2 linked regions of the Homo sapiens genome follow. Changing the gene in region 1 together with any one later gene gives a genetic interaction. Each region holds a gene or a part of one and is shown on either strand. Other genes may lie near its edges. The genes, in order: PXN and KEAP1.

What was found.
Region 2: changes in PXN (region 1) and KEAP1 together harm fitness more than expected from each alone (negative genetic interaction), as found in Homo sapiens cells (one large-scale study listed by BioGRID).

Annotation. Positions count from the first base shown.
Region 1 is NC_000012.12:120,224,068-120,227,875, reverse strand, and holds part of PXN (paxillin), read left to right. Parts: intron 1-758; exon of another isoform or gene 759-1,507; coding exon of another isoform or gene 1,508-1,523; exon of another isoform or gene 1,524-1,692; coding exon of another isoform or gene 1,693-1,723; intron 1,724-2,454; exon of another isoform or gene 2,455-3,498; coding exon 3,499-3,725; exon of another isoform or gene 3,726-3,808. UniProt on the Homo sapiens protein: Cytoskeletal protein involved in actin-membrane attachment at sites of cell adhesion to the extracellular matrix (focal adhesion). Recruits other proteins such as TRIM15 to focal adhesion.
Region 2 is NC_000019.10:10,486,135-10,489,942, reverse strand, and holds part of KEAP1 (kelch-like ECH-associated protein 1), read left to right. Parts: intron 1-89; coding exon 90-295; intron 296-574; coding exon 575-751; intron 752-3,124; coding exon 3,125-3,291; 3' UTR 3,292-3,808. UniProt on the Homo sapiens protein: Substrate-specific adapter of a BCR (BTB-CUL3-RBX1) E3 ubiquitin ligase complex that regulates the response to oxidative stress by targeting NFE2L2/NRF2 for ubiquitination.

The sequences.
Region 1 (3,808 bases):
GGGGACTCTGACCCTTAACCATTTTGCAGCCTATGGGGAAGTCTCAGGTATTTGCACCCATTGGAAATCAAAGTAAAGCTAGGAGTCTACTGTTGGCTTGCCTCCTGTATTTCTGGTTTTCTTTCTTGAGGAGTTTGTGGGGGGTTTGGAGGCACCAACCCCTACCCCTCTTGCCTAGTCCTTGCCTGTCCAAATCACTAGGTGAGAATGAAGGGTGGAGAGAGAGGAGGAAGCCATACCAGAGACCCTGTGGCTGGTGGATGGACTTGCTGGGGTTTTTCTCTGTCCCTCAAATAGACAAAACTTTGGAGAAAACTGAATAATGATGTGCCTTCTCCCTGACATCTGCACTCTATGATTTGTTCGTTTGTTTTTAAGACAGGGTCTTGCTCTGTCACCCCGGCTAGAGTGCAGTGGTGCAATTGTAGCTCACTGTAGTCTTGACCTCCTGGGCTCAAGCAATCCTCCTGCCTCAGCCTCCTGAGTAATTGGGACTACAGGCGCATATCACCACACCCAGCTAATTTTTAAATTTTTTGTAGAGATGGGGTTTCACTGTGTTGCCCAAGCCGATCTCCAACTCCTGTTCTCAAGTGATCCTCCCACCTCAGCCTCCTGAATAGCTGGGACTATAGGCATGCGCCACCACACCCAGCTAATTTTTAAATTTTTTGTAGAGACAGGCTCTCACTGTTTTGCCCAGGCTGGGACATGCTACAATTTGAATGTTACTTTATTACTTTTCTTTTCTTTTCAAGGTTGCCCTTTTCATGGTTTGCTCATATTCTACCCAGAAAAGACTTAGGAGACTTAGAAGAAGTTAGTACTTTGCATCCTACCTACACTGCTCTCCTTGGAGGAAGACCTTATTCTGGATTTTACAGAGCAAATCAGATCTGATGTTTGTAGCTTCCAATGTGCTATGGAGCTTCCTCCTGCAGAGTGACTTGGGTCTGGAGAGCCTGATATTTGCAACTGATGTCTGCAGCTTCCAGTGTACCTGCTAGCCCTTATAAACCTCACACCAGTACTTTGAGGTCAGAGTTATTCAAGAGCTTACTGAGACAACAGGCCCTGAGAAGCTAAGCGATTTGCCCTGTGGCATGGATGGTAGAGAGGGGAGCTGGCACTTGAACTCAGGTCTGGCTCGACCTCAGAATGAGTGATCTTGTGTCTCTGTGCCCCAGGACTGCATCCTCTCACCAATACTTCACCAGCCTAGGGATCTGTGCTCCCAAGAGCCTGTTGACATTGTAAACCTGAATCCAATCCATAAACCAAAAGCCCAGGCTTAGAATCACATTGTGGTGGAGCGGGTGTTTGGTGGAGTCCCTGATTCAAAATGTTTGACAAGGAAGCCTGACCATTTGTCTTCTGTTGGGTGTTTGGAGTCCAAGAGACCTGAGATCAGAGTCCAGCATTGTCACTTCATCCAGCCTTGGCAGTGTGGGATGTGACTCTGCCTCTGAACCGCAGTTATACCATCTGTGCTGGTGGCGTTGTGAGGATGGCAGGTAACAAAGGTGAAGCTCCTGGCCCCAGTGGGCCTTCAAGGATGGCAGCTGCTCCTGCCCCCTACTGGGGTTGCACTCATTCGTTGCCTGCTCTGGGGAGTCCTATGGGGTTTCTTAGCTGGCCCTGCCCATGGTGGAGAAAGAGGGATCCACCCATTGCTGATTGGGCCCAGAGGAAATGAGGACACTGCGTGAAGCCAAGACAGCAGGTGTGGCCCTGGAGAGGCCGTGGGGATTGGCCTGGACACTGGTTCCTTTTCTGCCGTTACCTAGATACCTACCAACTCCCTCTAGTTCCGGTTTGCTAGAGACAGGAAGCCAGGCCTCCTCCATGGGACCCGGAGGGCGGGGCGGGCTGTAGGACCTGAACTTCCTTGGAGGTCAGGCGACCAGACCCGGGGTCCTGGGCCTTGGAACAGACATCCCCTCTGTCCATCTGGGCAGGAGCATGGGGTAGGTGTGGCCAGCCTTGAGGGTAGGAGATCAGGACAGGCAGCTGGGACAAGGTGTGGCCCCATAGACCGAGGCCCTGGGTGAGGGCCTTGCTTCTCTATTCCCTCCTCTGAACACAGGTTGGGGGACTGGGAGCAAGGCCACAAGGAAGGATCACACTGGCAGGCCTCACAGCTTGGGCCTCCAACATTCAGGAAGTTGAACCCTTTAAGTATGGCATCATCTGGTAGTCATAGTGGCCTCTTACAGGCCAGGTTTTTGGGGTTTGGGGCTTCTGAGGAGTCAGACAATTGTGCCACTCACTGGCTTTGTTATTTGGAGCAAACACCTCTGACCTCTGCCTCTCCAAGCCCGGCTTTCCTCATCGCTTCGGGGAGAATCATTTCCAGCTACAGGGGGTATTAGGGGGATTAACGGAGACCTCGTACATGCTGCTAGAATGCCTAGCAGTCTGCCTGCTACTGATAAGTGGCAATAAACGCAGCCATTGCTTTTTAGATGTTTATTATCCTGAGGGCTAGGGATCAAGCTGTCAGCTCCCTGGACCCAGCAGGTTACCGGGGAGCTGAGAGCAAGCAAGTTGTGAACGGGGCAGGAATGAGGGTGTGGCATCCAGGGCCAGGCTGTCTGAGCCGTGGGGCTGTTGAGGGTCCCAGGAGGGGATGGAGGAAGTGGGGGTCAGCAGGTCCTACTCCTGCCCTTCTATACCCTTCTTTTCTGGAGACTGGGGAGACCTAGTGCCCCCCTGTTGGCTGCCAGGTGCCAGGGTAATGGAAGCTTACACTAGAGGGCTGATTTGGCTCCCTTGCCGCTGTTAAAAGCAGAACAGTGGGGGCCTGGAGCCTCTGGGGCCGGGCTGCTTGCCAGACTTCCGCAGAAACAGCCAATGGAGCAGTCTTGCCCCCTGCTCACTGAGGGGGTGGGGACCGCTGCACCAGCCTCACTCCAGCCCCCACCTCCCCGCACACCTTACCCCATAAGCCTAGAGCCTCAGGAGGAACCTGGAGCCTGGGCTTCTGCTTCCACCTGGTTAGGAGGGCAGGGACCATCCTGAGTGCCCCTTCCAGTCGGGGGCTGGGAAAGCCTAAGCTCTTAGAAATCAAGTGAGGGCCTGGCATAGCCAGGGCCCCTCCCTGTGACGTGGGGCCCCTCCCGCCCATTCTCTCCGCGTTGCCCTGCAGATTCAGAGTTCCAGACAGGCACTTCACTCGCGGCTGCGCGGCCCTGTCAGGAGGGAACGCAGTGCCAGGTGCCTGACTCCCAGAGGTAGGAGATCCCACAGGGCAGCCCCAGAGCCCGCCTCTAGAGCACTTTCAGTCCTGGGTGGCCAGAAGAAGTTAGCTTTGGGAGCCGGCTCTTGGTTAGGCTGGTCGGGGCTGGTGGCTTCCTGTCCCAAGGCTGGTCATTTCTCCCATGGGTGGGGCAGGTGCTAGAAGGCATTAACTCTTGAGGTGCAGGCAGGGAGGGCCCTGCCACGGGAGAGTCCCCAGGATCCCGGTTCTCACCTGCTACCCGTGCCTTCTCTTTGCAGACGCCCTGCTGGCGGACTTGGAGTCTACCACCTCCCACATCTCCAAACGGCCTGTGTTCTTGTCGGAGGAGACCCCCTACTCATACCCAACTGGAAACCACACATACCAGGAGATTGCCGTGCCACCCCCCGTCCCCCCACCCCCGTCCAGCGAGGCCCTCAATGGCACAATCCTTGACCCCTTAGACCAGTGGCAGCCCAGCAGCTCCCGATTCATCCACCAGCAGGTGAGGCGGGGACAGTGGCTGGGAAGGCCAAGGAGGCTGGGGGACAGAGGGAACTTAGCTGGCAGGGGCTTAGGGAGCCAGGG
Region 2 (3,808 bases), on another chromosome or scaffold:
AAAGGAAAAAAAAGAGTATCTGGCCCTTAAGTATTCCACGAAGGTCAGCTATAATGGCCATTGTCCCCATTTTTCTTACGCCCTTGCAGGTATGAGCCAGAGCGGGATGAGTGGCACTTGGTGGCCCCAATGCTGACACGAAGGATCGGGGTGGGCGTGGCTGTCCTCAATCGTCTCCTTTATGCCGTGGGGGGCTTTGACGGGACAAACCGCCTTAATTCAGCTGAGTGTTACTACCCAGAGAGGAACGAGTGGCGAATGATCACAGCAATGAACACCATCCGAAGCGGGGCAGGTGGGTGGGGACGGTAGGGAGGGGAGCACCCAGGAACACCCCCTACCATCCTGGGGTGAAACTGAGCCAGGCCTGGGAGAGACCCCCTGTTGCAACCCTCATGCTGGGGTAACCACAGAAGCCCTGGATTCTGATAGAGTCCAAGCTTCTCTCTCTCCCCGCTTCATTTCTGAGGGTGAGAAGGGAGAGGAGAGAGGAAAGGTCTCCCTCAAGGAGGTGATGGCTGGGGTTCCCAAAGCCAGACCCCCAGAGTCACCTTCTCTGCATGGTGCCCTTTAGGCGTCTGCGTCCTGCACAACTGTATCTATGCTGCTGGGGGCTATGATGGTCAGGACCAGCTGAACAGCGTGGAGCGCTACGATGTGGAAACAGAGACGTGGACTTTCGTAGCCCCCATGAAGCACCGGCGAAGTGCCCTGGGGATCACTGTCCACCAGGGGAGAATCTACGTCCTTGGTGAGGCCCTGGGGGCGGGGAAGAGTCCTGACTAGCCCATCTTTTGTGGACTGCTTTTGCTTTTGCTTTCCTTTTTTTTTTTTTTTTTTTTTTTTTTAGAAACAAGGTCTCGCTCTGTTGCCCAGCTGGAGTGCAGTGGTGTGATCACAGCTCGCTGGAGCCTCAACAGCCTGGGCTCCAGCCATCCTCCTGCCTCAGCCTCCCAAGTAGCAGGGACCACAGGCGCGCACCACCACACCCGGCTAATGTTTTTTTTCTTTTGAGATGGTGTCTCACAGTGTTGCCCAGGCTGGAGTGCAATGGCATGATCTCAGCTCACTGCAACCTCCACCTCCTGGGTTCAAGCGATTCTCCTGTCTCAGCCTCCTGAGTAGCTGCGACTACAGGCACATGCCACCACACCAGGCTAATTTTTTGTATTTTAGTAGAGACAGGGTTTCACCATGTTGGCCAGGATGGTCTCGAACTCCTGACCTCGTGATCCACCTGCCTCGGCCTCCCAAAGTGCTAGGATTAGAGGCATGAGCCACCGCGCCCGGCCTGTTTTGTTTTTTGTTTTGTTTTGTTTTGTTTTGTTTTTTGAGACAGAGTCTCAGTCTGTTGCCAGGCTGGAGTGCAATGGCACGATCTCAGCTCACTGCAACCTCCGCCTCCTGGTTTCAAGTGATTCTCCCCCATCAGCCTCCCAAGTAGCTGAGATTACAGGCGCCTGCCACTATGCCCAGCTAATTTTTGTATTTTAGTAGAGATGGGGTTTCACCATGTTGGTCAGGCTGGTCTTGAACGCCTGACCTCAGGTGATCTGCCCACCTCAGCCTCCCAAAGTGCTGGGATTACAGGTGTGAGCCACCGCGCCCAGCTTAATGTTTTTGTTTATTTTTATTTTATTTTATTTTATTTTTTTGAGACAGAGTTTTGCTCATGTTGCCCAGGCTGGAGTGCAATGGCGCAATCTTGGCTCACTGCAACCTCTGCTTCCCAGGTTCAAGTGATTCTCCTGTCTCAGCCTCCTGAGTAGCTGGGAATACAGGCACGTGCCACCACGCCTAGCTAATTTTTTTTTGAGATGGAGTTTCACTTTCGTTGCCCATGCTGGAGTGCAATGGCTCGATCTCGGCTCACTGCAACCTCCACCTGGCAGGTTCAAGCGATTTTCCTCCCTCAGCCTCCCGAGTAGCTGAGGTTACAGGCATGCGCCACCACGCCCGGCTAATTTTGTATTTTTAGTAGAGAAGGGTTTTCTCCATGTTGGTCAGGCTGGTCTCGAACTCCTGACCTCAGGTGATCTGCCCGCCTCGGCCTCCCAGAGGGATGGGATTACAGGTGTGAGCCACCATGCCCGGCCAATTTTGATTTTTAGTAGAGACGGGGTTTCACAATGTTAGCCAGGCTGGTCTTGAACTCCTGACCTCAGGTGATCCACCTGCCTCAGCCTCCGAAAGTCCTGGGATTACAGGCATGAGCCACTGTGCCCGGCCTTTATTTTATTTTATTTTTATTTTTTTATTTTTTGTTTATTTATTTATTTATTTATTTTGAGGTGGAGTCTTGCTCTGTCACCAGGCTGGAGTGCAGTGGCACAATCTCAGCTCACTGCAACCTCCGCCTCCCGGGTTCAAGCGATTCTCCTACCTCAGTCTCCCAGGTAGCTGAGATTACAGGCGTGCATCACCAATCGCATCTAATTTTGTATTTTTAGTAGATACAGGGTTTCACTCTGTTGGCGAGGCTGGCCTCGAACTCCTGATCTCAGGTGATCTGCCCGCCTCGGCCTCCCAAAGTGCTGGGATTGCAGGCATGAGCCACCGCGAGTGGCCTATTTTCCTATTTTTATTTATTTATTTTGAGATAGGGTCTCACTCTGTTGCCTAGGCTAGAGTACAGTGGTGCAGCCTCTGCTCACTGCAACCTCTGCCTCCCAGACTCAACTGATCCTCCCCACCTCAGCCTCCCTAATAGCTAGGACTACAGGCGCGCACCACCAAGCCTGGCTAAATTTTTATGTTTTTTTGTAGAGATGGGGCTTCACCATGTTGCCCAGGCTGGTCTCAAACTCCTGGACTCAAGTGATCCACCCACCTCAGTCTCCCAAAGTGCTGGGATTATAGGCGTGAGCTACCAAGCCTGGCCATTTTTTTTTTTTTTTTTTTTTTTTAGTAAGAGACTAAGGTTTTGCTATGTTGCCCAGGCTGGCTTCGAACTCCTGGCCTCAAGCAATCCTCCTGCCTCAGCCCTGCAAAGTGCTAGGATTATAGGCGTGAGCCACCACGCCCGGCCTGCTTTTGCATCTCACAGCTGCATCTCTCTCTTTCTGTCCCCTGCTCTTGGATGTGGTGTGACAGGTGGTGACCATCCCTTCTGTTCTTCCCGCAGGAGGCTATGATGGTCACACGTTCCTGGACAGTGTGGAGTGTTACGACCCAGATACAGACACCTGGAGCGAGGTGACCCGAATGACATCGGGCCGGAGTGGGGTGGGCGTGGCTGTCACCATGGAGCCCTGCCGGAAGCAGATTGACCAGCAGAACTGTACCTGTTGAGGCACTTTTGTTTCTTGGGCAAAAATACAGTCCAATGGGGAGTATCATTGTTTTTGTACAAAAACCGGGACTAAAAGAAAAGACAGCACTGCAAATAACCCATCTTCCGGGAAGGGAGGCCAGGATGCCTCAGTGTTAAAATGACATCTCAAAAGAAGTCCAAAGCGGGAATCATGTGCCCCTCAGCGGAGCCCCGGGAGTGTCCAAGACAGCCTGGCTGGGAAAGGGGGTGTGGAAAGAGCAGGCTTCCAGGAGAGAGGCCCCCAAACCCTCTGGCCGGGTAATAGGCCTGGGTCCCACTCACCCATGCCGGCAGCTGTCACCATGTGATTTATTCTTGGATACCTGGGAGGGGGCCAATGGGGGCCTCAGGGGGAGGCCCCCTCTGGAAATGTGGTTCCCAGGGATGGGCCTGTACATAGAAGCCACCGGATGGCACTTCCCCACCGGATGGACAGTTATTTTGTTGATAAGTAACCCTGTAATTTTCCAAGGAAAATAAAGAACAGACTAACTA